Linked DNA regions of Homo sapiens. The protein of the gene in region 2 interacts with the protein of the main gene of each other region in a pairwise test. Each region holds a gene or a part of one and is shown on either strand. Other genes may lie near its edges.

The links.
Region 1: the proteins of RPTOR (region 2) and LARS1 interact in binary tests that used the Homo sapiens proteins (3 or more experiments, as listed by UniProt).
Region 3: the proteins of RPTOR (region 2) and RAB1A interact in binary tests that used the Homo sapiens proteins (3 or more experiments, as listed by UniProt).
Region 4: the proteins of RPTOR (region 2) and MTMR3 interact in binary tests that used the Homo sapiens proteins (3 or more experiments, as listed by UniProt).

Annotation. Positions count from the first base shown.
Region 1 is NC_000005.10:146,123,371-146,130,697, reverse strand, and holds part of LARS1 (leucine--tRNA ligase, cytoplasmic), read left to right. Parts: intron 1-539; coding exon 540-680; intron 681-1,579; coding exon 1,580-1,720; intron 1,721-1,915; coding exon 1,916-2,026; intron 2,027-4,152; coding exon 4,153-4,263; intron 4,264-6,611; coding exon 6,612-6,716; intron 6,717-7,327. UniProt on the Homo sapiens protein: Aminoacyl-tRNA synthetase that catalyzes the specific attachment of leucine to its cognate tRNA (tRNA(Leu)).
Region 2 is NC_000017.11:80,918,725-80,926,051, reverse strand, and holds part of RPTOR (regulatory-associated protein of mTOR), read right to left. Parts: intron 3,329-7,327; coding exon 3,225-3,328; intron 2,563-3,224; coding exon 2,379-2,562; intron 683-2,378; coding exon 572-682; intron 1-571. UniProt on the Homo sapiens protein: Component of the mechanistic target of rapamycin complex 1 (mTORC1), an evolutionarily conserved central nutrient sensor that stimulates anabolic reactions and macromolecule biosynthesis to promote cellular biomass generation and growth.
Region 3 is NC_000002.12:65,099,069-65,106,395, forward strand, and holds part of RAB1A (ras-related protein Rab-1A), read right to left. Parts: intron 5,739-7,327; coding exon 5,666-5,738; intron 1-5,665. UniProt on the Homo sapiens protein: The small GTPases Rab are key regulators of intracellular membrane trafficking, from the formation of transport vesicles to their fusion with membranes.
Region 4 is NC_000022.11:29,878,361-29,886,265, reverse strand, and holds the start of MTMR3 (phosphatidylinositol-3,5-bisphosphate 3-phosphatase MTMR3), read right to left. Parts: upstream 3,093-7,905; 5' UTR 2,907-3,092; intron 1-2,906. UniProt on the Homo sapiens protein: Lipid phosphatase that specifically dephosphorylates the D-3 position of phosphatidylinositol 3-phosphate and phosphatidylinositol 3,5-bisphosphate, generating phosphatidylinositol and phosphatidylinositol 5-phosphate.

The DNA.
Region 1 (7,327 bases), on a different chromosome or scaffold from region 2:
TAATTGCCATTAATTTGAGAGCAAGCGTTTTCTGAGGTTTTCCACAAGGTGTCAGTATTTCCTCAAGTTTGGCATTTAAAGTGCTTAAAGTAAAAATGTAGCTTTACGCAATGAGCTGTGTAAAATATCACATTGAGTTTTATATAACTTGGTTTTCAGAGTTGTGGTTAAATAAGGATAAATGGCTGGGCATAGCAATGTGTTGTATTTATAGTCTTTTTTTATATTTAATATCCTATATGCTGCTAAGAGCAGTCACCCTTAATATACAGTTAAAGTTGTTCAACTTTTATGTCTCAGTTACAAACTGTCTGTAAAAAAATTCTTTTTTTGAGAATTATTAGTATAAAACTGCCATATACTTTGGACAAAGATAAATACTTGCAGATTCTTAAAGTAAAACCTTTACAGTAATTTGTTATGGATTTTTAAAAGACTAGAAACTTAAAAATGTGTTAAAACCAAGATACTGCAATTTTTCCCTTTATTTTTATTTTAAAGAAGGTGAGGGAAATGGTAAATAATTTCAAATTTTATAGGCCGCAAAAGATAAGTACCGTGAATTGGCTGTGGAAGGGATGCACAGAGAACTTGTGTTCCGGTTTATTGAAGTTCAGACACTTCTCCTCGCTCCATTCTGTCCACATTTGTGTGAGCACATCTGGACACTCCTGGGAAAGGTACCTTCATGCATTTAAAATGTTTCGAGTGGTTTTGATTTTGGCTTCATTAAATAAGTGTTGTGCTAATATTGTTACTTAAGAGAGAAAGTCTGAAAGTGAGTAATTCAAGAGTAATGCTGGATTCAGCATCATAATTATGACGGGTTAAACCAGAGCTATCTCCTATTCAGATGGATATATGTGCCCTTATTTATATACACAACAGTGCATACATATTTTTAAAAGGTGAAAATATTGAGAAAGATATAAACAATTGTTATGAGCTGCTTAAAAACAAAGATATAGGTGTATATTTGTGTATATTTGTGTAAGTATTCTTGTTTTATATAAAACTTCTGGCATATATAGGACTTAATATTCAGGGATAGTAGCATTCTTACTATGAATATAAATTCAGTTATTTCTCCCAGGCTTACAGATAAATAGATTGGCTGGTTTAATAACTCCTTTCCAGCCATATTAGCTAGGCTCTTTTGTATTTTTAAATGCATGAACAATACAGAAATGTGCTCATGATCTATATACCAAATAACCGTACTTGAATACTGGATGTATTAGCAGGATAAAAACTGAGTGTATGCATAATTTATATAATAATGATTAAATTTAGGCAAATTAGCATTACATAATTTTCTTTGAAAGTGAGCATATGTGTGTGGGTATTAATATGCTTGTACAAATGGATGCTAATTAAGAATGTAGAGTCAGACTTCACAGCTTGAATTCTAGGGAACATTAGATCAGGGGCTGTGCAAGTGTGTTATGTGTAGTCAAGTTTGAACTCTGAGCACACAATTACAGATGGTATCCTTGGTATGAAACTATAATCAAGAACCGTAAAATAGTTATATTGTCTAATCTCACTGAAGGTTTTTTTGTTTTTCTTTTTTTAAAAGCCTGACTCAATTATGAATGCTTCATGGCCTGTGGCAGGTCCTGTTAATGAAGTTTTAATACACTCCTCACAGTATCTTATGGAAGTAACACATGACCTTAGACTACGACTCAAGAACTATATGATGCCAGCTAAAGGGAAGGTAAAGTTTTTTTGTTTTTTTTTTTAAAGGATTATTCCTTAAAAGTTATTGATCAGATAACATTTAACAATAATGAAAGTTAAAAAGATTTTCATTAATGGTGAAGACCGTGGTGGTGTATGTTGGGGGAGGGTTCTTCTCATTTTTGGTTTATATAAAAGCTATTGAATGTTTTTCCTTTCTTTTACCGTCTAGAAGACTGACAAACAACCCCTGCAGAAGCCCTCACATTGCACCATCTATGTGGCAAAGAACTATCCACCTTGGCAACATACCACCCTGTCTGTTCTACGTAAACACTTTGAGGTGATGCTCTCAGTAGACTTTTCCCCCCTGATGGTGTTGTATGCTCCCTATGTTGTTTTTGTTTTTAGGATGTTGGCAATGTCTGGGAGAAGAAAGATAGGCAGCTTTGTTTCATTCCCTCTAGGCAGACAGCATCCTTTTGTTATTCTTGGTGGCTCTTAAATGGATGCTGAGGGAAAAGCTGCTGTTTTCCTCTCATTTCTGAAAAATTTATACAAAAATACATTGGATCTAGTTGAATGTAATCAAAAGAATTGGGGGTTTTCATATGTGTAGTTGAAATGATGAAATAAAAGGACAGAGTTTGCCTTTGGAATTTGTTGTAACTTGAGCAGTGGGAGTCATTCATTAAATTTATTCATTCATTATATTCATTCATTAAATTATTTCAAATCGTAACCTTGTTTATTGTTTGGAAAAAAGTGAAGCTTTGTTCTTGAGTACTTTAAATGTTGTTTGGTTTGATAATTACCTATAGAAATGTAGAGCTTGAAGACATTTTTGGCTGTGCCAGGTAATGATAAATCCACTTAAAGGGAACTCAATAACTTAGATCTAAGTTTTCCTGAAAGAAAAAAATGTATTTTTCCTCTGCATTCAAAATGTAGAAACAAAGTATGTTTATGAACTTTGGCTTTTTTGCTTAGGTTATTAAAACAGTTATTGCTAGATGCAGACCACTAAGGTGCACTTTAAAAAGAGAGACAAAATACGGATTGTGGTCAAAATGTAAAGAAGAAACGTAAAGGAAAAATTCTTAGCTTTGATATTCTAGACCATTATTGGAATTTTGCCTCAACACTTTTCATAGTTAATTAAGAAATGCTAAGAAAAGCTGCTTTTACATATGTAAAATTTGATAGAGAAGAGCAAATGTTTTTGTATTTCTTGTGAGTCTATTTTTGTGGAGAACTATTTCCACCTTTGAGTATATATGATAGAAATAGAAGGTGGCCTTTAGAATCTGCTTGCAGATTTTGAATTAAGGTAAATAAAAGATAAAAGCTACTTTGGTTGGCACAAAAGTGAAACTACCTCAGTGGATTATATATTCATACCAGCAATTTCAAGGAAGCAGTGGAAGAACCCAAATATAATATGTAATGTCTTAGGTATTAAAAAATGCATCACCTCTGTTCTTTTTGAAGTTGTTTTTTTACTTACTATTCATTTGCTAGATAATTGAAAACAGTGGTATCTTTTGGCATTAGCAGCTGTCTTTTAGATTTTTGTATGTTTTCATCCACAGGAATGAAAAGAATGTTCATTTATAATCACGAAGAGTGTTCTTATGTTGAATGTGGCACCATTTTGGTGACATAAGGCAAAGGAGTGTTTCCCACCCTTTTTCTTTTTCGTGTGTTTCAGAGGAATATATTAACAAGTAGAATATTTTTTTCCCATGTACTTTAGTAAAAGTTAGAATTGAAAATAGATTATTTGAAATTGTATTATATGTTCCTTTTCATTTAGATTCATTCCCAACCCTTCTTTTACAATAAAGAGAAAACAAGTTGCCCAAAACTTTGAAAAGACCAGTTGCTTTATTTCTCACTCTATTGAGGGGACCGTTAATATTTGTAGAAAGAAATGAATTTAGATTCATTTAAAGCACACTTGGATTGTACTCATCAGTGATATATGATATGGACATTTATTTTTGAGTAGATAGAAATGATTCTGTTTTTAACAGGTCAGTAGCTAGGGATTCTTTTCACAATTGTGGTAACAGTTTCTTCCAAGTGTCCAAAAGCAGACATTATATAAACTTGTATGATAGTTGTGTAATTTTTTATTTTAATATGACTAATAAAATGCTTTTAGAAATTTGAAAACAAGTTTTTATGAGACCATTTAGTTTCTGAACAGGAGAAATATTCAACACAAATCACTTCTTTTTCTCTTCTAAACTAAAAAGTATGTGTTGTTAATTTATAGAGAATAGGAGAGTTCCTTCTGCATTGTTCATTGAGCTTTCACTTCCCCGTGATGCTAGGGCTGGACACTTTTCTGCTGTTCTCTAAGGATTGATAGAGGCCACCATTCTATGCCTGGTCACATCTACTGTTCTGCCTTATTCTTGAGACTTTTTTTTCTACATTACTCTCCCTCCTTCCTTTTCTTAGGCCAATAACGGAAAACTGCCTGACAACAAAGTCATTGCTAGTGAACTAGGCAGTATGCCAGAACTGAAGAAATACATGAAGAAAGTCATGCCATTTGTTGCCATGATTAAGGTAAGCTGTGGACCTTATGCAGCTGTGACCACATGAGCAATGGTTAGATGGGACAATAGAAGGATGGGGAAAAGCCTTGGACATAGTCTCCTGCCAGAAATCTGCTAAAATAGCACTTTTCAATCAATGACTGAGAGAAATGATCTATCAGATTTTGGGTTTACTTGTGGAATTGCTGAGTATGTGAAAAATATTATTGTGGGAGAAAAATTGGTTTAGAATGGCTGCACTGAACTATTCCCTTCATATTCTACCTTCCCTTCTTTCAAACTCTTTTGGCTTACATTAGGCTTATAGAGGCTTGCATTTCCTAGACCCTATTCCTGGAACCAGGATTCAACATTTGTATAGGTATAGCTTAACAGGGTAAACATTGGTTATAGTGGTTAGACCAGGGTGTCTCAGCATAGCTCTGTTGGTATTTTGGGCTAGATAGTTCTTGTGGGGCACTTTCTTGTGCACTGTAGGATATGTAATGGCATCCCTGGCTTCTACTCATTAGAAGCCAGTAGAACTACCTTTCCTGCTAGTTATGACAATGAAAAATATCTCCAGACATTGCCAAATGTCCGCTGGGGGCAGAATCACCTTCCACTTCTTACCATTGAGAATTATTGGGTTAGACCCTTAGTTTTCTTCATATACGTCGCTGATGTATTACTGGATTTCTTGACAAAAAGAAACCGAAAGAAGGCTTATATTGCTTAAGATCGCAGGCTATGGGGCCAGAAAAATCTTGGTTGAAATTCTGTGTATCAGTCACTCCTTAGTTTTGAGACCTTGGACAAATCACTTAAATTTTCTGGGCTACAGGATTTTTCATCCATAAAATGAGGATACTATAGAACCAAACTTTTTAGGAGTGCTGTGAGGAGTAAATAAAATAGTGTACCTAACACACTTAAGTAGCACTAGTCAAGAAGTAGGCTCAGTAAATGTTGTTTAAAAATACAAATTAGTATCTTCCAGCCTACTAAGCATATTGTAGTTATTCTTGTACTGTCCTTTAATTCTTGTGTCTTCTTGGCTGCAGATGCCTGATGGAGACCAGACCTCTTAACTTCTTCAATATTATAATAGATTAGTATTCTTGGAAAAGGTTTTTAATTCTCTTAGACCAAAGTCACTATTTGATCCTCAGGGTATTTTAAGTTTCAGAAGTAATTTAGAATCCTGTGTTGACCTACACTAATCAAGTTGTAATGTAAGTGCTGGTATGTTCATAGTTCGTTGGTTCCCCAGTGGCTAGTGTCATTGGTCATAATGCCAAATCTCTGTCAACATGTGGATCCAACAAAATATTCCATTGATGGTTGCAAAGGCAATTAATTTTGATGACATGTTTTAAAAGAATCCAGGGAAACCTATTTGAAAAGTAGTTATGTGTATATGTATATATATATAGAGTGTGTGTGTGCGTGTGTGTGTGTGTATAAAATGATATTAGATTCAAGAGTTGGCTTCTTTAGGATCTCATTTAAATTTGAAGAACCAGCATCAGACCGTTTGAGTGGTAATATATTTTTAAAATTATGTTGGTGATTTGCCAGGCAAATTAGTGGTTTTGCAAATTTTGGAAGGGATTAATACATCTGGGAATAAGAAAATGACTTTCTAGCACTTCCATGAGAAAAAGAAATAGAACTTGCATAGTAAGCGAAAACAGTGAGTAGCAGGAATAATATCAGGTCACTTTCATTAAGTATAACATGTTCTAGGTAGTTATATCTGCATATGTACTTGGATCTCTAGGATTCTATTTTGCACAGCAAATATTGACTACCCAAGAAAATTAAGAATAAGAAATTATTTTTTACATGCCATGTTTGAGTACTCATGTAGTATGAGTTTTTTTTCTTTAAACTTTGCAGAAATATCTTTGGGGATTTTTTGTTTGGATATTATTAATTCACTATTCTCTGAAACAGCTTTAAGAAGGTGGTATCTCAGAAAATTAAAATTTTGTTTTTTTTGGGTAACTTAAAGGGATATTTTCACACATTTGGCTGATTCCCTGTAAAGTGAATTCTTTGGGCTTGCATGTTAAGTCAGTCTAAATAAACAATCATAAAACCGTATTTATTTTATAAATCTGAAAACCTTGTGCCTTCCCATCTTTTCAGTGCTGCCATAATCTTATAATACTTTAAAAGATAATTATTTGGAGCTAGTAAATTTCATTAACAAGCAAATGTAGGTAAAGGAAATCATGAGTCCAAGGCCTTTCCTTTAACTCCTGAAATCTGAAGATTTTATCAGTTGAGAGAAGAATGATTACTTTGGAGGAAGTATGTTTTCCAACATATTCTTACTGTGATTTTGTTTTTCCATACCATTTTGGCTATTAGGAAAATCTGGAGAAGATGGGGCCTCGTATTCTGGATTTGCAATTAGAATTTGATGAAAAGGCTGTGCTTATGGAGAATATAGTCTATCTGACTAATTCGCTTGAGGTAAGAGGGCCAGGGATTGTAATAACCAGTTAACTGTAGTTAAACCATAATCCAGCTCTTTTATTTTATAATAAACCTTTTTATAAATTTCATCTTCTGTGTTTAGTATCTTTGTTAAATATATTAGTCGAAAATATTTTTGGAGAGAAGAAAAATGGGTGAGTATAAAAGTTGCAGGAAAAAAAGTGATATGTCATCTTATTTCATCAATTCTTAATTTACATATAATCAATTATACATTAAAAAACTGTATATCTGGCTATTCTACTGCAAATTATTTTTAAGAGACCTTATATTCAAATGCTTTCCAAGCCTCTCATGTTATGGAGTACTCTGAATTGTTGCCTTTTTTCCCCCCTCCCTTTTGATTTGCAGAATTGGATTAATTATAATCTTTGGTTTAGAATTGCTGCACTGATATATTGGTTCATGATATATTATGGTTCATGATATATTATGATTTGGTTCATGATATATTATGATTGTTCCATGTCTTGCCGTGTTTTTTTCCTCCCAATTTATAATAAAATGAACATCCCTGAATTTTCTACCCAATCCAGGAACTAGAACAGTACCAATAGCTTTTATATATCTGTGACGTTCTCCCCATC
Region 2 (7,327 bases):
GCTGGGCCCTGGCAGAGAGATGAGCACTGGGACTGTGCTGACAAAGCAGCTCCCGCCCCATTCCTCGAAGAGGCCGAGAGCCGCCGCCCTGCCCCAGCCTGCAGGAACACAGCCACTGCGTCCACAGCACACGGCGCTTGTTAGGGCTGTGTCAGGGTTGAGCCTCAGAGATGGTCTTGTGGTGTAACCCCAAATGCGCTAGGATTGGCTGCAGCAGGCTGCGTCTAACAGTCCCCAGACCTCGGAGCCACGCAAGCGTGGCCTTGGGATGGGCCTCGAGTGATCCTCACCATTAGGGAGTGGGAAGGCCTGTGGTGACCCTGTCAGTTAAGGCAAAGTGACACCTGTCACACTGGGAAGCTCCAGCGAGGCAGGTTTTCTCTTTTCGTTTGGCGACAGGAAGGTAAGTGAAGTTTGTTTCTTCTGCGGTTCTACCTCAACCGTGACCATCACTACCACGACCACAATGGGACGCTCCCACAGCCACAAGCCTTGAGCGTTTATGCTCAAAGAAGTGGGACAGACACATGTTCGCTAGGACTCTACTCTGAACCCCACACCCCGGGCGCACCTTCATGACGGGCTGGGCAAAATAGCGGGCGCTCCAGTCGCAGAACCCCGTCTGCACCGTGGCGGAGATGAAACTTTTGTGTCCAGCAGCATCGTCCGCGTCGTCCGCAGTCTTCAGGGTTTAAGCAGGAGGGTTGGAAGGAAAAAGAAACACCAGTCAGTCATGCCACTCCTGAGCTCAAAAGAGCTGCAGCTGGGGACAAAGGCGCTGCCGGGAGCACCGGGCTGCCCCTAAGGACGGCACTTCTGTGCTCTGCTCACTTCCGTATCCTGGTGACCAAGAACCCCTGAACGTCTGGCCAGGGATTGAGGGGCCCGGGCTGTGAAGTGTGAGCCACGTCGGTCCCACCATCCCCAGGGCCGACCCAGCACAGCTCCCAAGTCAATTCTAACTGACTGTTCAGACAATGCCACGTGCGTCCATGTGTGCTGGTTTATCAACCCCCAAAAAGCCTCTGCCGCTTGGTTCCAGGACAGCTCCTGTGATGGCCCCGTGACACCAGACTGAGAGCGGGGACTCCCATGTGAAGTGGCCTGGACGGAGCGCACAGCTTTGCAGGCCGGCTGGAGCTCCCAGCTACTGGAGAAAGAGGATGTGGAGCTGAGGAGGACTGAGCTTTGGGTGTTTCCTGTTGTGGAACCTGTGGCGGCCAGGGCTGTCAGAGTCTGTGTGTGCTTGTGGAGTGAGGCTGGGCACCAGGGGTCTCCTGTGCCACGCCATGTGGCCTGCTGGCGTCTCTCACGCTGTGTCTTGGCACAGGGAGCTCCCCATGATCTCAGGGCAGGTGCAGTGAGAGGTGCATCCCCCCCACCCCGGGGGGTCGGGTGGGTGAGCTGCACGTGCCGGTAGCATTGCTCCCCAGGGCCTGGCCAGGAGGCTGACCCTGCACTTGGGGCTCGGTGGTGATTCTCGCTCCTCCTCTGCCGAGACACGGAAAGTCCAGGTGGGCTGGGGCTGAGCAGCACCTGTGGGGACCTGTCCGCTCTTGCCGTGACAGCTCTTCTACCCCAACATGGCCGTTCCTGCTCCAGGGCATCCTGCAAGGCGGCCGCTAACTTCTTTTAAAATCACTGGATTACCAAGCGAGCCCCGGACCCCACTCATTGCTGAGATGATCATGCTGTCAGCACCCAGAGCAGCTGGGTGTGCTGGGTGCGCCCTGAACCACCTTCTTGAGCCCAGGTGCCCTCAACTGACAAAGTGGCAGCACCTGGACGAGACAGCCGAGGTCTCCGGACCAGCTGCCACCTCACACCACTCTCATAACCCTGGCAAAACAAAGCAGGCATTCCTCTCTCCAGAAATATCTTTTTCAACTTAGTTAAAGGCAAAGAGAGTGTACCTATTTATGCAGCGTACTTGGATGTTCACAGAAAAGACAACACATTCAGAACAAATGCTCTGCAGTGCAGCTGCCCCCAAGCGGACGCAGAGTGCTGTGTGCCCAGGAAGGGCAGAGCCAGGTAACTCCGTGCTCCTGTTTCGTTACATGGAAGCTGCCCAGAATGGTGAAACCAGAACCAGGGGCGGAGAACCGGGACACACCCAGCAGTGCTCCTAAAGAGTGCAGGCAGAGGGACCGGGACACACCCAGCAGTGCTCCTAAGGAGTGCAGGCAGAGGGGTGCACGAGTGAGGACCAGCACCCGGGTCTGCAAAGGCAGAGAGTGGCCCACAGACCCAGGACGGCAGGGTGGGTCCTGCCCCATCCCATGGTGATGTGAGCAGCCTGAGGCTGAGGCCATGAGCCCCCATCTGAGAAGCAACGCTCTCAGTGTCCAGATCACCAGGCAGCCGGGCTCCCGTACCTGCTCTGGGCCCTTGTCGAACATCTTCCGTGTCCGGGGGAACTGGTGGGAGTGAGGGGTGTACTGCGCCCCAGCGGGGCCTGTGGTGCCCGGCCGGCCAGAAGGCAAGTCTCGGCTGACCGGCTGCTTGGCCACATCGTTGGTCAGGCTGGAGCTGCTGGTGCTGGACGCCGGAGGGGAGCCCCTGCCATTGGAAGAAAAACAAACACTGCATCCTCTGCAGAGTCTGGGGCTTCGAGAGGGAACATGGAACAACTTCCTGGGCCACCTGCACCCTCCCAGGTGCCACCAGGGCCCGGGGTGTCCTCAGTCACCCAGCATGCCATCATGGCTCCCGAACCCCAGCTGCTGGTGCCGAGTCCATGCTGCTCGGTTGCCCGCCTGGCAGGGGGCAGGGTTGTCCCTCATTGAACTCCAGCACCCTGGGAGGTGGCGCGGACAGGACGAACCCAGCTCAGAGTCGAGTGGGCCGGGATGTGCGAGCTCAGCACACAGCAGTGCCACGTCCTGAGGTGCAAACACCTGTTGGTTACCCATTTGGAGATCTAGATCCCCTCTTACAAACTCTGAAAGGCCACAGAGACCAGGCTTCATTCAACTTTTGCTGAGATGATGTGCACATGAAGGGTTCCTCAAGATGGGGAGAGCTCAAGGCAGGGCTCAGATCAGGCGGGTACCGGGGTGTCCGGGAGGGAGAGGGAAAGAACGCCCGCTGGAGAGGGGGGAGGAGACGAAGCCAAGACAGGGCGGGGAAGGAGGAGGATGGGGAGGCCGGCTCAGGGACAGCTCAGCCCGTGGGGCCCCGGTCACCACCACGGACCTGCAGGCTGAGCGGGCGGCACTTACCCCGCCTGGTGGATGTGCACGCCCTTGTTGGTGGGGCTGGCGGGGGCCGACTGCGTGAGGGAGGAGGTGTCCAGGACGCGCTGCGGCCGGGCGTTCACGGTGGCCTAGGGGCAAAGGAATGGGGGTGTGAAGGTCAGACGGGACGTGCTCCGCGGAGGCCGCCACACGAAGCAGAGGCTGGCGTGGAGCCGCTTCAGAATCACAGAAAAGGCCTTTGGCCGAGGAAGCACCAACACCAATGGAAGGCCCCAGCTGGATCCCCCGCAAAGGCAATCCTGAAGCTCAAGTGGTATTCTTTACTCTTGGACATGCATCCACTGGGCTAGCCCTGGCGTGGCCGTGTGAGCCGGGATGTCTGGGGAGGAAGCTCTGCCTGAGGCTCCTGAGGGGTCAGGGCCTGAAGCCTCTGAGATGGATGACGGCCCACCCTCCTCACCTTCCCTGCCAGAGGGGCGGCTCCTGGCGGCCTCAGTGTCCTCCCCCTTGCCTGAGGCTGGGCCTCCACACTGTCCCAGCCTTGAGTCCAATTCTCCCCAACACCTCAGCTCTCGGGTCAGAGGCTGCGAGTTGAGGCCCGGGAAGAATCCACCAGCCATGCTCTTTCCGGAGCCGGGCGATGTGGCATTCACGGAGGGTCAGGGAGTGCTTCATCCACCCGGGACCTGGCCGGTGGGCACGGGGTGGAAAGCCACCAGCAGCCTGAGGCCTCCACGCAGGCCACTGTTTACACCCCCGTGTGCTTCAGGAGGCCACAGAAACTGTCAGAGAATGACTGCAGGGGGCTTGGGCTCTCTCCAGTGGCAAAATGGGCTCTGCTGCCTGGACTGTGACGGGGCCTGGAACTCAAGACCGCCCTTAACATCCTCCTGGCCGAGGGGCTGTGGTCATCCTTTCCCACGGGCGCACGCAGGTGGTGCTGGGTGCACTGCATGGACGGGGAACCTTCATCTCCAGGGCAGACATGGCTGAAACCTGCCCTGGGGAGGGGCGCACTGGCAGGGGAAGGGGATGGCTGCTCCCGGAGGGTGGGGAGCAGGGTGGTGCACAGCTGGCACAGCCTAGTGGGCAGCATGAGGCTCCAAACCACCCCTTCAACCCAGCCGTCTGTGGATGAAGCCAAGACCCTGGGCTCTGAGAGCCTCCTGCCACAGACACCTGCAGGGCTTGAAATTCTACCACAGAAAAAGATTTGTACCAGCTTGAGCCCTGGCATTCAGGAGGCAAGAGGTTTTGCTTTTATTTTTTAAAGCAGGGTTTTCTGTGGATCTGGAGACCAGCTGTCGGCGTTAGTGAGCAGCCGTGAGAAACCACGCAAGGCAGGGCGTGCGCTGCCCGGCCACCGACATGACCTCGCGAGGGCCCAGGTGCTTCGGGGTGGTTTTGTTCTGAGTACACTGCTCAGTGGGGGGAATGCGGGTCCCGCTGGGTTCTGGACTCCAGAGGCTGTGCGCGTTCAGAAGGGGCCTGATGGTGCTGGGGCAACCTCATCTGTGTCAGGAGGATGGGGCCAGCTGCTCCATGAAGGTGCCCACTGATCCCGCAGGCACAAGCCATTCCCTGAGCGCCGGCCCATCCCAGGCTGCGCTCCAGCCAGACAGAACCCTGTCCTTCAGGTCCGCATCCGCGTGGAGCCTGCAATGTCTCATGCTTTTAATTATTCACTTAGAATTTAGGAACCTTGAACCTGCAATTCAGCCAACAGAACACCAAGGAAAACAAAACGATCCTGAAGTCTTCACTCATGTAACACCCACGCTTCCCAGATTGTCCTTTCCTTCAAAACGCAAATAGCAAGAAAATGGAACCATAACTTGTCTTTAAGCAACGTTCCTATTTTTTAAATGACAAGAGTAATACATGTTCTTTCTGAGCTTGTTTTGTTTTGGTATTAAACTATTCGGCCAGCCCTAGACACATACAACCATCCCACAGAACCTGCCAGACATATGATCCCTTCAAAAGTCTAAAAAGAGAAAAGCAAGTTTTCGACTGTGAACTTTATATGTGCCTTCTCAAAATGTCTGGAAAAACAGTGGGAGGTGACGGGGAAGACAGAAAACTTCTGGAGTTGAAATGAAGCCTTTAGCAAAACCCACACATGCTCAGACGCTCACGGAGCACAAAGGCTCAGGCGCTGCTGGGCTGGGGCCGGTGACTCAGGAGCCCTGGGACGTCACGCTGAGCCGCCTGGGGTCTGTGCAGCTCCCGCCTTGCCACCCTGCACGGAAGCGCCCGTGGGAGTACCGCATGGAGCCGTGGTGACGAACCCTCTGCTCTGCCCACTCTTCCAGGCAGGGAACTGATCCGGGCCTCGGCATGAATTCTCGCAGCCCCTGGGGTTATAAGATGAGACCATCCTGCTTTCACATGGCTTGTACCTGGGGCTGCTGTCACAAAACTAATTTTCCACCACTTCTGGAAATCTCGTGAGACAGACACACACCTGGATCAGGAGCCCCCCCCACCCCCATTAGTGTAGTGACCACAGGGGGTTGGCCTGGAGGGAGCTTTCTTTAGCTGTGCACTTCTTATTTGTTCAACATTTACTCAGCGTTGATTGCGCTGGGTGTGGGGCCAAGATTGTGAACATGAGTAGCGTGTCCCTCAGAGGTGACCTGGCAGACCTGCCTGCCTGCGGTGTCGGTGTGAGGACAGGGTACGCAGCGAGCAGGAGCTGCAGAGCTGGCTGGGGCAGGGGCAAAGGCAGAGGACCAGGGAGAGTCCTTTCTGCTGGTCCCTGCCACCATCTTAGAGAGCGCAGCACCAGGAAGGGTGAACAGAGAGGGCACGGCAATGGCAGAGGCTGGGTTTGGAGATGCAAACTGGAGGGCTGAGTGCGGCCCGCACAGCCTCTGTGGGCCCAGGCCTGCCTGGAGGACACGGCGCCCTTCTCAGCATGTACACCCCCAGAGCCCCGGCTCACTCGCAGCCTGCAGAGGTCAAGGGTGTGCAAACATGCCCTCTAGGGAGGTCTGCGTCCAGAGAGGACGGCAGCTGTAAGAGGGTCAAGGTCCCGGCTACAAGACAGGGCCTTTCTTCCACTCCCCAAGCCAACCTTCGGTGGTGGCAGATACGACTTTGCTAACAGTCGAATGCTCAGCACAGACACTCTCTTGGGCCAGTGCGCACATGAACACGCCTGGAAGATGGAGGTGCAGGTGTCTTTTATCCACCCCCGACTGTTGCAGCTGCTGAAGCGGGGACTGGAATGAGACCCACCCTGTCTCCTGTTCCGGGAGCGCCACCTCACAAGGACACGGGGGCGTCTGATCCAATGCAGATGAAAATACCGTACATTTCAGAGACTTGGACAGTGAATTTTCCCACTGGATCTTGACACAGTCAGGGCTGCGGATGCCAGCGTCAGCTTCTGGCTGCTCTATCTTGGGAGGAAGTGGAGTATTTCAGAAATGTTCCTGTTAATTTTATATCGAGGATCTGGATTCATGTGTGAGAAACTCTTAAAAAGGGATTCCCAGAGGATTATCCAGAGGCACTTTTGGGCTAAGAATAGCGCAGAGGCCGCTGGCTGCTTGGTGGGGGAGAAGAAACCCCTGCAAAAGCGTGTGCTGCTATTTCTTCAAGTCATTTTCCTGCAAACTGCGTTTCCTAGATAAATCCTACGAACTCTTCTTTTGGAAAAGTAAGTCCTAGGTATTATTCCATTAAAGCAACGTGGTGACTCTTAACAAGATGCCCATTAGTTACAAAGGAAGCCTTAAGGAATTTCACTTGGGGCCACGGTGCCCTCAGTCCTAGGCGCTGCGGGAAGAGAACGCCGCGTCAGTGGAGGCCGAGGTGTCTCAGCCCACCAGCTCCTTCCCTCCTCAGACCCGGGTGTGTGGGAAGGCTCGGGAGGTTCTGGAGTTGCTGTGGCCCCTTTTCCACAGAGGATGGTGAGATGGCCAAGGAGCTGATGGCGACATAGACATGAGTGCTGATGATGCAGCTGGCTGTGTGGAGCCCTCTCTGCACCTGGGCGGCACAGGACACAGACACGAGTGCTGACGATGCAGCTTGCTGTATGGAGCCCCCGCTGCACCCAGGCAGCACAGGGACGGGGCTCTGCCTTTCTTACCACAGCCCTAGGGGGTGGGAGTCAT
Region 3 (7,327 bases), on a different chromosome or scaffold from region 2:
TCTAGTGATCCCCCTGCCTGAGCCTCTCAAAGTGCTGGGATTACAGGTGTGAGCCACCATGCCTGGCCCATTTTATTGGCTGAATAATATTACATGTACTACAAATATACAACATTTTATCCATTCATAAATTGATTTGGGTTGTTTCCACTTCTTGGCTATTATGAATAATGCTGCCATGAACATTTGTGTACAAGTTTTCCTGTGAATATATGTTTCCTGTCAATTTTTTAACCTAATGTTAAACTTTTAAAATTATAACTGCTTCTTGCAAGTACCTGCCATGAAATTTTATTCAGAATGGAATAAAAATATTTCTCGTGAAAAGATATATGAATGAACAGACCAGGCTATCATCATATGAACCACAAAGCACCACCTAAGAAGTACTCTGTCAACAAAGATGGACCTTAATCGAATCAGGTCTAATGAGAACGGCACTGCCAAACAGAACTTCCTGTGACAATGGAAAGGTTCTATAAGCTGTGCTAGCCAATATGGTAGCCATTAGCCCTATGCAGCTTGTGAAACAAGAAACTAAGTTTTTGATTTTTTCAATTATTTTTCCCCCTTAAAGGGACAGGGTCTTGATGTCTCCCAGGCTAGAGTACAATCGTAGCTTACTGAAGCCTTGAACTCCTGCACTCAAGCAATCCTCCCACCTTGGCCTCCCAAAGTGCTGGGATTACAGGTGTGAGCCACCAAACTTTTTCAATTTTAATTAATTTAAATTTAAATAGCTACATAGAGCTAGTAGCTACTCTAAGGATAGTGCAGTTCTAGGTCTTCTAATTACAGAAAGAGGGACAAACAAATAAGCATAAGGACATCACAAGGAAGCAAAATGACAAATCTAGAATATTGGACAATCTACAGGACAAGTGCTTCAGTTTCTGCAAAAAGTCAATGACATAAAAAATATATAAATAAAAAAGATAAGGTATAAAACTCTAGATTAAAAGACTAAGCAAGAAAACAACCAAATGGAAACTGTATTTTGCAGGTTGATAATGGCAATGTCATTTTATAAGAAAATGTTTTTAGAAATATGGGCCGGGCATGATGGCTCACACCTGTAATACCAGCACTTTGGGAGGCCAAGGTGAGTGGATCACAAGGTCAGGAGTTTGAGATCAGCCTGGCCAAGATGGTGAAACCTCATCTCTATTAAAAATACAAAAAATTAGCTGGACGTGGTGGCGGGCGCCTGTAATCCCAGCTACCCGGGAGGCTGAGGAAGGAGAATCACTTGAACCCGGGAGGTGAAGGTTGCAGTGAGCCGAGACTGTGCCACTGCACTCCAGCCCAGGCGACAAGGCATGTCTCTGTCTCAAAAAAAAAAAAAAAAAAAAAAAGTTATGTTGTAATTGAGTGCCTAATAAGTATCAGGTACTATAGAAGTATATAGAGGCCAGGCGCAGTGGCTCACATATGTAATCCCAGCACTTTGGGAGGCCAAGGTGGGAGGCTCACTTTAGATCAGGAGTTCAAGACCAGCCTGGCCAACATGGTGAAACCCTGTCTCTACTAAAAATACAAAAAATTAGTGGGTGTGATGGCACACGCCTGTAAACCTAGCTAGTCAGGAGACCAAGATGGAGAATCGCTTGAACCCATGAGGTGGAGGCTGCAGTGAGCCGAGATTGCACGACTGCACTCCAGCCTGGGCGACAGAGCGAGACTCCATCTCAAACCAAAAAAAAAAAAAAAAAAATGCAGAGAACAAAATGAATGCAATAAATATTCATGTAGCACATCTATCCCCCAGGTACTTGGATAGAAATACTGAATTCTTGGCCGGGTACAGTGGCTCACGCCTGTAATCCCAGCACTTTGGGGAGCAGAGGTGCACATATCACTTGAGCTCAGGAGTTGGAGACCAGCCTGACCAACATGGTGAAACCCCATCTCTACTAAAAATACAAAAATTAGCCAGGCACAGTAGTACACGCCTGTAATACCAGCTACTCGGGAGGCTGAGGCATGAGAATCACTTGAACCCGGGAGGTGGGAGTTATAGTGAGCTGAGATCATGCCACTGTACTCCAGCCTGGATGACAGAGCTAGACTCCATCTCAAAAAAAAAAAGAAAAAGAAAGAAATGCTGAATTCTTGTAAATCTCTAAATGACCTTTACTCCCATGCCTGAGCCGTTACTATTCGTCTGCCCAAAAGCCTCAGTTATCTCTCTCTGCATAACCCTACTTACTCCCCAGCCCCAAGGTCATGTGGCATTTATTCATCCTTCAGTTTTGAGCTCAGGCAATACTGAGTGTCCAAACAATTTCTTCAACTCCTCAGCCAATAGATTCTTCCCTCTGTGCCCCCAGAGCTTATTGCACATTTCTTTATTATAGTCCTCACGATTGTCTCTATTAATATTTTGAGGGTATGGGGATCAGCATTTTAAAAATAGTTTCCAGGTATTATTGGAAAACCTTTGACTTCAAGCAATGGACATCCCAGAGAGGGTTTTCCTTGAGGCACAAACGCCTGAGGCTACAGCTAGATTCTTCCCACCTACCGAGAGTTGCTTAAGAATTATGCTTAATTTTAATATTTGCCAATTTAATAAAAATTAAATGACACCTAAGTTTAACTTAAAGGCCTTTAATTACAAATAAAGTTGAGCCTTTTTTTTTTTCCATATTTATTGGCAATTTGTATTACTTCCTTTTTTTTTTTTTTTTTTTTTTTTGAGATGGAGTTTCGCTCTTGTTGCCCAGGCTGGAGTGCAATGGTGCGATCTCGACTCACCACAACCTCCGCCTCCTGGGTTCAAGCAATTCTCCTGCCTCAGCCTCCCAAGTAGCTGGGATTACAGGCATGCGCCACCACATCCGGCTAATTTTGTATTTTTAGTAGAGACAGGGTTTCTCCATGTTGGTCAGGCTGGTCTCGAACTCCTGACCTCAGATGATCCGCCAGCCTCAGCCTCTAAATGCTGGGATTACAGGCGTGACCCACCACACCCAGCCAGCAATTTGTATTACTTCTTTTTTCAACTGACTGCTCATGTATTTGCCACTATTTCCATTAGGAGAAATATTCTTTTCTTGTTGATGTGCAAATGTGCTTTATATGTTGAGAATACCAATCCTCATATATATATATTTGCTATTGCCATTAGTTTTCTAACATTTTTGTGCCTGTGATAAATTAATTTTAATAGTCAAATTTAGCAGTGATTTCTTGCTTTTTTCTTATTTTAAAAAATACCTTCACAAACCAAGATTAAAGAGCCACCTATGTTTTATTCTAGTACTCATGGTTTTATTTTTAACTGTTATATAAAAAGAATTATACATTATTTAATATTTTTTAAATAACCTTCATTAATATCGGCACTCATCAGAAAAGTCATATGTATTTAGGATACTGTCAAGTGGTAAACTCTAAGTTTTTTCAAATTCTAATTTTCCATGATAAACTTAAATTTTATTTCAGCCAACAAATGCTTGCAGCTACTTCCCTTGAAATGACTATCACAGTTCATCTGAGAAAATCTGTCAAATAGCCAATTCTGTTCTAATCTGTCTGTTAGCTGTTCTTTCAAGTTAAAAAAAAAAAAAAAAATGTCCAGGTGCAGTAGTTCACGCCTGTAATCCCAGCACTTTGGGAGGCTGAGACAAGCGGATCACGAAGTCAGGAGTTCGAGACCAGCCTGGCCAACATGGTGAAACCCCATCTCTACTAAAAATACAAAAACTAGCTGGGCTTGGTGGCAGGTGCCTATAATCCCAGCTACTTGGGAGGCTACGGCAGAAGAATTGCTTGAACCCGAGAAGCGGAGGTTGCAGTGAGCCGAGATTGTGCCACTGCACTCCAGCCTGGGCAACAAAGCAATATTCCATCTCAAAAAAAAAAAAAGAAATGGTGTTCCACAGAAAAAAATAAAGCAGTTAGCTCAGCTTACAACTCAAAAAACTACAAATGCTTTTCTTTTCTCCAAAATAACCAACACACTAGCCAGTATGCAGTAAAAAGTGCTTTCTCCAGCACTTTGGGAGGCTGAGGCACATGCATCGCTTGAGCTCAGAAGTTTGAGAGCAGCCTGTGCAACACAGTGAGACCTTGTCACTACAAAAAAATACAAAAATCAGCCAGGCATGATGGCGCATCCACTTGGGAGGTCCCAGCCACTTGGGAGGCTGAAGTGGGAGAACAGCTTGAGCCTGGGAGCCAGACGCCACTGCACTCTAGCCTTGGCAACACAGCCAGAATCTGTCTCAAAAAAAAAAAAAAACATTGTTTTATGTGAACTTCCCATTTCTTCACAAATATTTTTAAAGGAATACTCATGGATCAACATTTTTCAAAAATTAATCATTTTAACTGTTTTGTCAAGGACAATCTTCAATAAAAATGGCACGGCTTGTTTTTGTTCCTGTGAGGGCACAGAGGTAAAGAATGCCATCACCATGAGTACAATTTGGAGCTTAGCGCTGCCTTGATGTGTACCAAGCCAGCAGCAATTTTACCCACATGCTTTTGTACCAGAGCCAATGTCATCACTGAAAAACGCAAACATCTTTTATATTAGTATTATTACCAAGTAAATATTTCCTTACAAATACTAACATCTTAGTATTATTAGGATATTTTGACCTCATGGGCTACCTGAGAGGGTCTTGGTAACCCCCAGGAGTCTTTGGTCCATGCTCTGAGAAACAATGATCTCTAGAAGGGAAACATGCTAATTTGTTTTTTTATTTTTTTTCTTTTTTTTTTGAGACAGTCTTGCTCTGTTGCCAGGCTGGAGTGCAGTGGCACCATCTCAGCTCACTGCAACCTCCGCCTCCTGGGTTCAAGCGATTCTCCTGCCTCAGCCTCCCGAGTAGCTGGGACTACAGGCGTGTGGCACCACACCCAGCTAATTTTTTGTATTTTTAGTAGAGACGGGGTTTCACCGTGTTAGCCAGGATGGTCTCGATCTCTTGACCTTGTGATCCGCCCGTCTCGGCCTCCCAAAGTGCTGGGATTACAGGCGTGAGCCACCGCACCTGGCCAGGAAACATGCTAAATTTAAAGGTAGTTGATAAAGACTATGAAGGACACTGTGGATTCTGTTAAGTCAAAAGTCCTTTATCTGTCAGCTTCAGCATTTAGAACTATGCCATTGGCCAACGAAGTTTGTCCAAGACCCTACTTTTTCTTTTATTAACTTTTTTTTTCAGAGACAGAGTCATGCTATGTTGTCCAGGTTGGTCTCAAAACTCCTAGACTCAAGTGATCCTTCCACCCTCAGCACCCTGAGTAGCTGAGACTGCAGGCATGATCCACTGCGTCACCTGGCTCTGCTTTTTCTTCTTATTCTACTAAAGTTTAATTTAAAGATTTATTTTCATCAAGTCGCTTTCAACACAGGCCACCAACTACCCCTTTAACTTGCTGCCTATATTGGAACTGCTGTTTGACTCTGACCAAAAGTATTAGACATTCTGACTTTATAACCATACTTCACTGAATTTCTTTTAAGAGCAACAATATTTTTCTATTTAACAGTCCAAGATACCACTGGGGATGTATATTTGGAGTCTTTAAATATATAAATTCTGGAAGAATTAACTTATTCTGAATAAAACTGTTTAATTTTATCTACCTAGAAAACATACATAGCATTAATTGTACCATTAATTGTAAAGACATTTCAATTTCAACTTACTGCAAACCTAAGAAGAAGGCAAGACTTTCCAACCCCTGAGTCGCCAATCAGAAGTAACTTGAATAAATAATCACTGCAAAAAGAAAAAGAAAATGATGTTAATAAAAAGCACACTGCATTGCTATAAGCTATACAAAAACAAAAACACAGCTACAAATAACAACTCACTGTGAAGACTACATCTCCTATAAAGCCCATGCATGGCTTAAGCCAAAACTGCAAACAGCCACAGCCCTTCTGACAGATCACTAAACATGATAAAATTATGTAAAAAGTAGGCAATGCCACCTATGATCTCTAACATCAGTGAACTTCCACTTAAAAAGAAAGAAGGAAAAGAAAAATAAGTGATACGCACTCTTGGACTGCCCAAGATACTTAAAACATTCTAAATAAATCCCACTCCTCTATAGTATTAGAATACAGAAAGGTAACTTTTCATTGTTTTTGCCCATGAAATATTAGTCTCTCCTTCAAATTCTAAGATCAGGCCAGGCGCAGTGGCTCACACCTGTAATCCCAACACTTTGGGAGGCTGAGGCAGGCAGTTCACTTGAGGTCAGGAGTTCAAGACCAGCCTGACCAACATGGTGAAACCCCGTCTCCATTAAAAATACAAAAATTAGCTGGGCATGGTTGCGCATGCCTGTAATCCCAGCTACCTGGTAGGCTGAGGCAGAAGAATTGCTTGAACCCAGGAGGCAGAGGTTGCAGTGAGCCGAGATCGTGCCACTGCATTCCAGCTCCAGCCTGGGCAATAAGAACGAAACTCTGTCTCAAAAAAAAAAAAAAAAAAAAAAAAAAAAATTCCAAGATCAAATAATTTCATAGCACTCCTCCAATGAAGGGGTTCTCACGATCCTTCTCTAGCATCCAGCTTGAATTCTCCCGTCAAAACAATGTTCATATAACTTCTGAAAGCCCATATTATAAACTAGAAATGTGATAAATTCACAGGCTGTTTATCCAAGTGCAAAACTTGACTAACACTCTACACTTGTATTAAAGCATTTTTCAGAACCATTGAAAACCAAGCTTTTTTTTTTTGAGACGGAGTCTTGCTCTGTCACCCAGGCTGGAGTGCAGTGGCGCGATCTCGGCTCACTGCAACCTCCAACTCCCTGGTTCAAGTGATTCTCCTGCCTCAGCCTCCCGAGTAGCTGGGATTATAGGCATGCGCCACCACGCCCAGCTAATTTTTGTATTTTTAGTAGACACGGGTTTCACCGTGTTGGCCAGGATGGTCTCGATCTCCTGACCTCATGATCTGCCCGCCTCAGCCTCCCAAAGTGCTGGAATTACAGGTGTGAGCCACCGCACCCAGTGATAAAACAAGGCTCTCTTTATGTATCTCTAACATTGCCAGGCCTAACTCAAAAACTATCCCCAGAGATTCCTTCATGGAACTAAGACAACATTATTATTCACCCACAGTCTCCAAGGAAATCCCTCATAGATCCTTCCCAACTCAGACACCAGTTCTATGCATTCTTTTAAGCAATTTCAAAAGGACAAAAACCTTAGAATTTATATATCGTTTTTGTAGAAGATATACATGATTTTGTATTTTGTCCTTTTTGATTTACTTTCAAAAATATGCTAAAGTGAAAACCACGTCACAATTTAGATTAAAATTATTTACATGTAAACAAGACATAAAAC
Region 4 (7,905 bases), on a different chromosome or scaffold from region 2:
AAGCTGGCTCTTCATTTTCATTTTCTTTCCTACCCAGAGCCCTATTTGATCAAAAATTGGCTCTTTAATCCATTGCAAAATATCAGGTAGCTTTTAATAACTAACACTGCTATAAACCACCATAACTGTTCTTTTTCCCATATCAATAGTATTCACTTAATTAAAAAATATCTGAGGGCACAGAATATGCGGATAACTGCGCTGGATACTGGGGACACCAGGGAACAAAACAGACAAGGCCTCTGGCTCTTCTAATGGACAGCTGGGTGCAACTCTAAAAATACTACTCTATGATTTGACAGGATATTTACCAAAGCCCTTCACTACTCTACACAATTGTAACAACATTTTCTTCCACCTCTTCCAAACTTGTAAGAACCTTCACCACACCCCCCTCTAAAACACGAATACTTCCTTTGGTAACAGCATTCCACTTTACTGAAGAAGGTGTGAACGTGTTAACTAGAACTACAGCAGATTTTTAAACTGACTTTACCACTCCTCATGGCCTGCGGCAAATCTCAAGAACTTTTCACAATACATAGTAACCCTTCCTGGTTCACAACCCGGGTCTCAAATGATTGCTAACACACCCATCCTACCCTCCACTAGAAATCTGAGTCAGATGGTTTAGGAGCAACCATAATGGTGGGAAGCATCTTCAGTGGACCCCTTTATGAGCCAGAAGCCGACTTACTCCCTCTCCTTCTCTGTTTATTTCCTCTGGATCCTTCAATATATCTCTGGATACAGTATATCTCCAATTAATCAGCATCTAATTTTATCAAGTGTGTTCCTAATAACTTGTTTGCAAATTAACTTTTGGCAACAAATCTGTTTCCCCTACATAAATCCATTATATTTTAAGAGATGCTCAATTTGCATCTCTTTAAGTTTCTCATGCTTCCCCTTCTCCACCTCTTAAATTCTTAAAGATCTATAAACAAAAGCACCCTGAGAAGTCATAATTAATGGGACTTCTTTGGAATACCCAACCTAAAGCAAAAGTTCACATGCCTTGCTGACCAGAATCATTCACGGAGCTTTGTAAGGACAGATCCCCAGGCTCTATCCTCAGAGATTTTAATTCACCAGGTCCTGCATGAGTTCGAGGAATTTAGGTAGTCCATAATATTTCTAATGACCAGCCTTAAACTAGACAACCACTGAAGAACCTGGCCTATGAGCTGAGAAACTCAGGGTTTTTTATGGCTGGTCATTAACGACAAGCGGGGCTGTACCACTGTGCTGGTCACTTGAAGTTCTCTGAGTCACCTGAAAATGAGGGAGTAATTGGAGCCAAAAGAGGTATTCATAGGCAGCCAATCTAAAATTCTAGAATCCTCCAAATTTAATTTAATATCACATACTATACTGGGTTTACTCAAAACAGTGTCATTCTGGCTGGCGGCAGTGGCTCACGCCTATAATCCCAACACTTTCGAAGGCCAACGCAAGCGGATCACTTGAGGTCAAGAGTTCCAGGCCAGCCTGGCCAACATGGTGAAATCCCCGTCTCTACTAAAAATACAAAAATTAGCCAGCCGTGGTGGCGCACACTTGTAATCCCAGCTACTTGGGAGGCTGAGGTGGGAGGATTGCTAGAACCTGGCAGGCGGAGGTTGCAGTGAGCAGAGATCGCACTACTGCACTCCGGCCTGGGCGGGAGAGAGAGATTCTGTCTTAAAAAAAAAAAAAAAAAAAAAAAAAAAAAGTGTCATTCTGTAAGCTCTTCTAGCCTACCCAAGTCATAGGCCCTATAAAGGGAAGACTTTCTGCATGCCATCAATGTCTCCTGTCCTACTGAACAGCCCTGAATCTGAAAGGGGAAGGTCCCCACCACCTCTCCATGGACAAATCACAAACATTTCACATTGAAAAAAATAATAATAATCTCCTGTAATTCAACCCAGGCCTCTTATGGCATTACCATTCACATATGAGAAAGTTGAACCTTAACTAGAAAAGTATATGGTTTTGGGGTTTTGTTTTGTTTTGTTTTGTTTGTTTGGGTTGTGGAAAAATAGATGTCAGAATCAAGATACTACAACAGTAAGAATTTAGGCCTGGGTCTGGAAAGGACATTTGAACATCAATATGTAATAGCAGTCCATGTCCAAAACTCACAAGTGAGATTATCAAATTCCAGGGGAGTCTATTAATGTGGCCAAAAAATCTACCCCATAATTTTGACATAAGTTTTCCAGTCCAAAATACAACCTACAGTATCATCTTATGGGTCCGGAAATGCCATACATCAAGCAAAATTACTACCGGAGAAATAACACTGTAATCATTTGCGGAGCAGTCTGACCAGGGTTCCCTCAGTTACGCCAACCGCCCCCAATCATCCTACCCACCTAAGTACTACCAGGTCAGGGGGATGCCCTGCTGCACGATCGGGCGGTCACTCCTCCTTTCCACAAGGCCCAGGCCCGCACCGTTCGCCCCGGGGCTCCCATGGCCCCTGACCTCCAGTATCCGGCAACGATGGACCGCCACAGACCCGGCAGGGGGCGAAGGGCGCACACCCACCTCCCGGGAGTTCGTGGGAATAACTCCGGGCGCTCCGAGGGTACGTCCCACACCCAGAGCCGCACGGGCCCATCCCCGCCAGGTCTGGGAAGGCAGCCCGAGCCCGGGACCCCGCCTCCCCCGCATCTAGGGTCCGGGCCGAGCTCGGCCGCCGAGCTCCCATTCCCACTCCCACACCCAGCGCCTCCCCCTGGCGGCGACAGCCGCCGGGGACGCCCCTCCCCGGGCCCCGCACGCAGTCCCCAGCCCTCCCAGGGCGCTGCCTCCTCAGAGGGTGACAGCCGCCTGGCCAGGGCCGGGGCCGAGGCCGGCCCCTCCTCCAGCTCTTCCTCACCCGCCGAGGAGACGGAGGACGGGGATGGGGTTCTTACCGGGCAGCAGGACATGGCGAGGCCCTCCACGGCACAGTCTCCCCCTCCGCCACCCCACCAGGCTCCCTGCCAGGGCCGGCGCTGGGCAGCGCCTGAGCCGCTGGGACGTCTCGTCCGGCTGCTACTCCGCCGCCGCCGCCGCCTTCTCACAACCACAACAACATGGCGGCAGCGGCCACACAGAGCGCGCTCCCGACGCCGAGCCGGGCGACGAGCGAGGACGCGCGCGCACGCTCGGGCGCTGAGCCCGGTGTCCGGGAAAGGGGGCGGGTCTCCGCCGGTTGGACGGGGGCGGGGCCTGGACAGGTGGTCACGCCCCAGGAGATGGGCGGGGCTGCAGCTGGGGAGAGGCTCGCGAAAAAGCCCAGCGGAGCAAGAATGGCTAGACAGATGGGAAATGGGTGGAGGAAAAGAGATGACAAAAAAAAATCTGGAAGAAAACCAAAGGTGGTCCTACAGATTTTTAGGAGGCGTCTTTTCCAAGCTCTGTAACCCTGGGCAAGACATGGCTCACTCTACTTACCAGAAAAATAGAACAATAGTGGTATCTTCCACCTGCAATTGTGGTCAGGATAAAACCAGTTTAATATAATGCAAGTAAATATAGTGTTTTAGAAGTTGTATTCAGAATACAATTTCTTTTCTTTTCTTTTCTTTTTTTTTTTTTTTTTTTTTTTTTTGAGACAGAGTCTGGCTCTGTCGCCCAGGCTGGAGTGCAGTGGCATCTCGGCTCACTGCAACCTCTGCCTCCCGGGCTCAAGCGATCCTCACACCTCAGCCTCCTGAGTAGCTGAGACTACAGACTCACAACATCATGCCCGGCTAAATTTTGTATTTTTTGTAGAGATGAGGTTTCTGCCATTTTGTCCAGGCTGATCTCAAACTCCTGGGCTGAAGCAATCCACCCACCTCGGCCTCCCAAAGCGCTGGGATTACAGGCATGAACCACCGCATCCGGTCCAGAATACAATTTCAAACTGATTCAACTTCAGCTCCTAATCAAAAGCTCAGCGGGAAGAAGTGAGTTTTCAAACAAAGTAAAAAACAACTCCCCCAAAAAATTGTAACCTACCCACACTAGCCTGCAGAATTCCACAAACCAGGATTGCATTACCGTAGGCCCTAACAGATTCACCTCCTCTGAGTTGCCTTTTAACATTCTACCCTTGACTTTTCTGGAAACTGGGAGAACTAGTCAAATGAAATCTATTCCTGCGTCTGTTGTAAAGTTTTTCCACAGCACTTTCTGAAATTTATTTTCAATGTTTACTGTCATTTTACTCCACTAAAATGTAAAAGCTACTTGAAGATAAGGATCTTGTCTTGTTCGTCACTGTTTCCCCAGCACCTAGAACTGTGCAGGTTAAGTAGTAGGCAGTCGAATTTCTTGATTAACTAACAGCTGGCTGGGCGCGGGGGCTCACGCCTGTAATCCCAGCACTTTGGGAGGCCAAGGTGAGTGGATCACCTGAACTCAGGTGTTCGATACCAGCCTGGCCAACTTGGTGAAACCCCGGATCTACTAAAAATACAAAAGTTAGCTGGGCATGGTGGCGGGCGCCTGTAATCCCAGCTACTTGGGAGGCTGAGGCAGGAGAATAACTTGAACCCGGGAGGCGGAGGTTGCAGTGAGCTGAGACTGCGCCACCGCACTCCAGCCTGGGCGACAGAGCAAGACTCCGTCTCAAAAAAACGAAACTAAACTAACAGCTAACATTTATTCATACAACTCATCTAATTGAATCTTCACAACTTTAATAGGTAGATGCCATTATCTCCATATTACAGATGAAGAAAGTGAAGCACAGAATAAATTGCGTGTATTAAAACAAAATTCAAACCCAGCAGACAAAAAAAAAAAAAAAATACTGTGCTGTCTTACCCACCAGGCTGTACTGCCCAGTGCATGGACACAGTAGCCTGAAATAAAATCTCAAGTAAGAAATTACTTTAGGCCGGGCGCAGTGGCTCATGCCTGAAATCCCAGCACTTTAGGAGGCCGAGGCAGGTGGATTGCTTGAGCTCAGGAGTTCGAGACCAGCCTAGGCAACATGGCGAAATCCCATCTCTACAAAAAATACCAAAAAACTGGCCAGGCGTGGTGGTGCACGCCTGTAGTCCCAGCTATTTGAGAGGCTGAGGTGGGAGAATGGCTTGAGCCTGGGAGGCAGAGGTTGCAGTGAGCCCTGATTGTGCCACTGCACTCCAATCTGGGTGTCAGAGAGAGAAAAAAGAAAGAACGAAATAAATTACTTTAGAGTTAAAAGCTTGGAAAGCCCTTGCTTTACTACCAGAAAAACCGGTGTGCTTCCTGCTTTTTGATAACTGTTACGCATCTGATTGTGTCTCTCTTTTCACTCTGGCTTCCAGAAAGCCCAGGGCTAAATGTGAAGCTCAGCAATGACCTCTTCTTGGCCCTTGAGGGTCCACTCCTGCCTCAACTTTGCACCTGTATTTATATGTGGCTGCCCTGATTTTCCCTTTCTGTTCTATGACTGACTATAGGCTTAATGGAATGGGAGAAGAAACAGTAAATACTAAAATTGATGAATGATTTAAAGTTTTTTTATTTTATTTTATTTTATTTTATTTTTGAGACAGAGTTTCACTCTTGTTGCCCAGGCTGGAGGGTAATGGCGGGAACTTGGCTCACTGCAACCTCTGCCTCCCGGGTTCAACCGACTCTCCTGCCTCAGCCTCCCGAGTAGCTGGGATTACAGGCATACGCCACCACACCCGGCTAATTTTTTGTATTTTTAGTAGGGACGGGGTTTCTCCATGTTGGTCAGGCTGGTCTCGAACTCCCGACCTCAGGTGATCCACCAGTCTCGGCCTCCCAAAGTGCTGGGATTACAGGCATGAGCCACCGTGCCCGGCCTCTTTTTATTTTTATATTTTATTTTATTTTCAGACAAGGTCTCACTCTGTTGTCCAGGCTGGAGTGCAGTGGCTGGATCTCTGCTCACTGCAACCTCTACCTCCCAGGGCTCGAGCCATCCTCCCACCTCAGCCTCTTGAGAAGCTGGGACTACAGGCGTGCTCCACCACACCTGGCTAACTTTTGTATTTCTCATAGAGACGGGGGGTGGGGGTGGTGTCTCACCGTGTTCCCCAGGCTGGTCTCAAACCCCTGAGTTCAAACGATCCATCTGCCTCCGCCTCCCAAAGTGCTGGGATTACAGGGGTAAGCCACAACGCCCAGCCTTAAACTTTAAAAATTAAGAAAAAAAAAAAAAGGACTTTCCAACCTGTTTTTCCCATTGTCTGATAAACCAAGGTTCTCATCAGCCATTAAGCCCCCCCGCAGGGAAATTCCCTTAACCAGTCATCTGCTCAGGGAAAGGCCATAGGACGAACTGCCACAGGTTGGTGGCCTCTGATTGGACTGAAGCTAGCACCTGACTCCAGGACAGCCCACCCATAGGCCACCTAGCTTCCAATGAGAAGGCACAGGGCAAAGAGTTCTGCCAATAGGCAGTCAGCATACACTCAACCAATCCCACAGCTCCCCAATTCACCATGGGAGAGCGAAGGAGATGGCTTGTAATTTTGACCTCTTTTTAGACGGAATGTCATCGTGTTTGCCTTTTAATCTGGGCTAAATAATCTTCAATTGAATCTTCAACCAGTATTTGGGACATAGGAGGAATTTCTCTATGCCCATGAAATCACACTATTTGCACCTTCTCATTTTCATAATAGCTAACATGAATTGGAGTGAGTGGCTATTCACCGACCAGATATCAGCACACTACAGCTTCCAACTCCCCGGCTCCAGCAACCCTCCTGCCTCGGCTTCCCTACTGGGTCTAGAGGTATTCACCACTGCAACTGGCTGGATTGAACCTTTCAATTGTGGCGGGCGCTATACGAGCACTTTACATGTATATCTAATGTAATCTTAGGCCGGGCACGGTGGCTCACACCTGTAATCCCAGCACTTGGGGAGGCCGAGGCGGGCAGATCACCTGAGGTCAGGAGTTCGAGACCAGCCTGGCCAACATGGTGAAACCCCATCTCTACTAAAAATACAAAAATTAGCCAGGCATGGTGGCAGGTGCCTGTAATCCCAGCTACTCCGGAGGAAAATTGCTTACTCAGGAAAATTGCTTGAACCCGGGAGGCAGAGGTTGCAGTAAGCCAAGATGGTGCCTCTGCACTCCAGCCTGGGTGACAGAGCGAGACTCTGTCTCAGAAATAAATAAAATAAAATAAAATTTAAAGGTAATGTAATCTTTACAACAACACTATAGGAAGGTATTGTTACTGTCCTCCATTTTACACATAAGAAAGTGTAAAGGTCAGGATTTGAACCCAGAAGATTTGACTCCAAGTTCATGCTTGTCAACTTCATTACTACACCTCATCACCACTGCTGCCCACTTGCTTACCTTTAAGACAGACTTTAGTAAATTATTTATAAATAAGAAAGAGAAAACTGCAGCATGGCCTTGAAAACTCACCTCAAGAAGAAGGGCCTAAGGAGACTCAATAGAAAGCTGGTCTGTGTCTAAAGACTTAAATTTGAATCTTGTCGCCTCCTCATATCTGCTTCTCTTTTCCCTTTTCTATGCGTCAGTTTCCTCATCGCCTTCTAGGGTGGTAATCACTAACCTACTTAACTCATGTTGGCCGGTCTCCGTGGCTCACGCCTGTAATCCCAGCACTTTGGGAGGCAGAGGCGGGTGGATCATGAGGTCAGGAGATCGAGACCATCCTGGCCAACATGATGAAACCCTGTCTCTACTAAAAATACAAAAATTAGTCGGGTGTGGTGGCACGCGCCTGTAGTCCCAGTTACTCTGGAGGCTGAGGCAGGAGAATCGCTTGAGCCTGGGAGGTGGAGATTGCAGTGAGCCGAGATCACGCCACTGCACTCCAGCCTGGCAACAGAGCGAGACTCTGTCTCAAAAAAAAAAAAAAAAAGAAAGAAAAGAAAAAGAAAAAAGAAGCATGTTAGGGTTCTTTAAGGTAATGGGTTTGAGAACGTTTTATATTC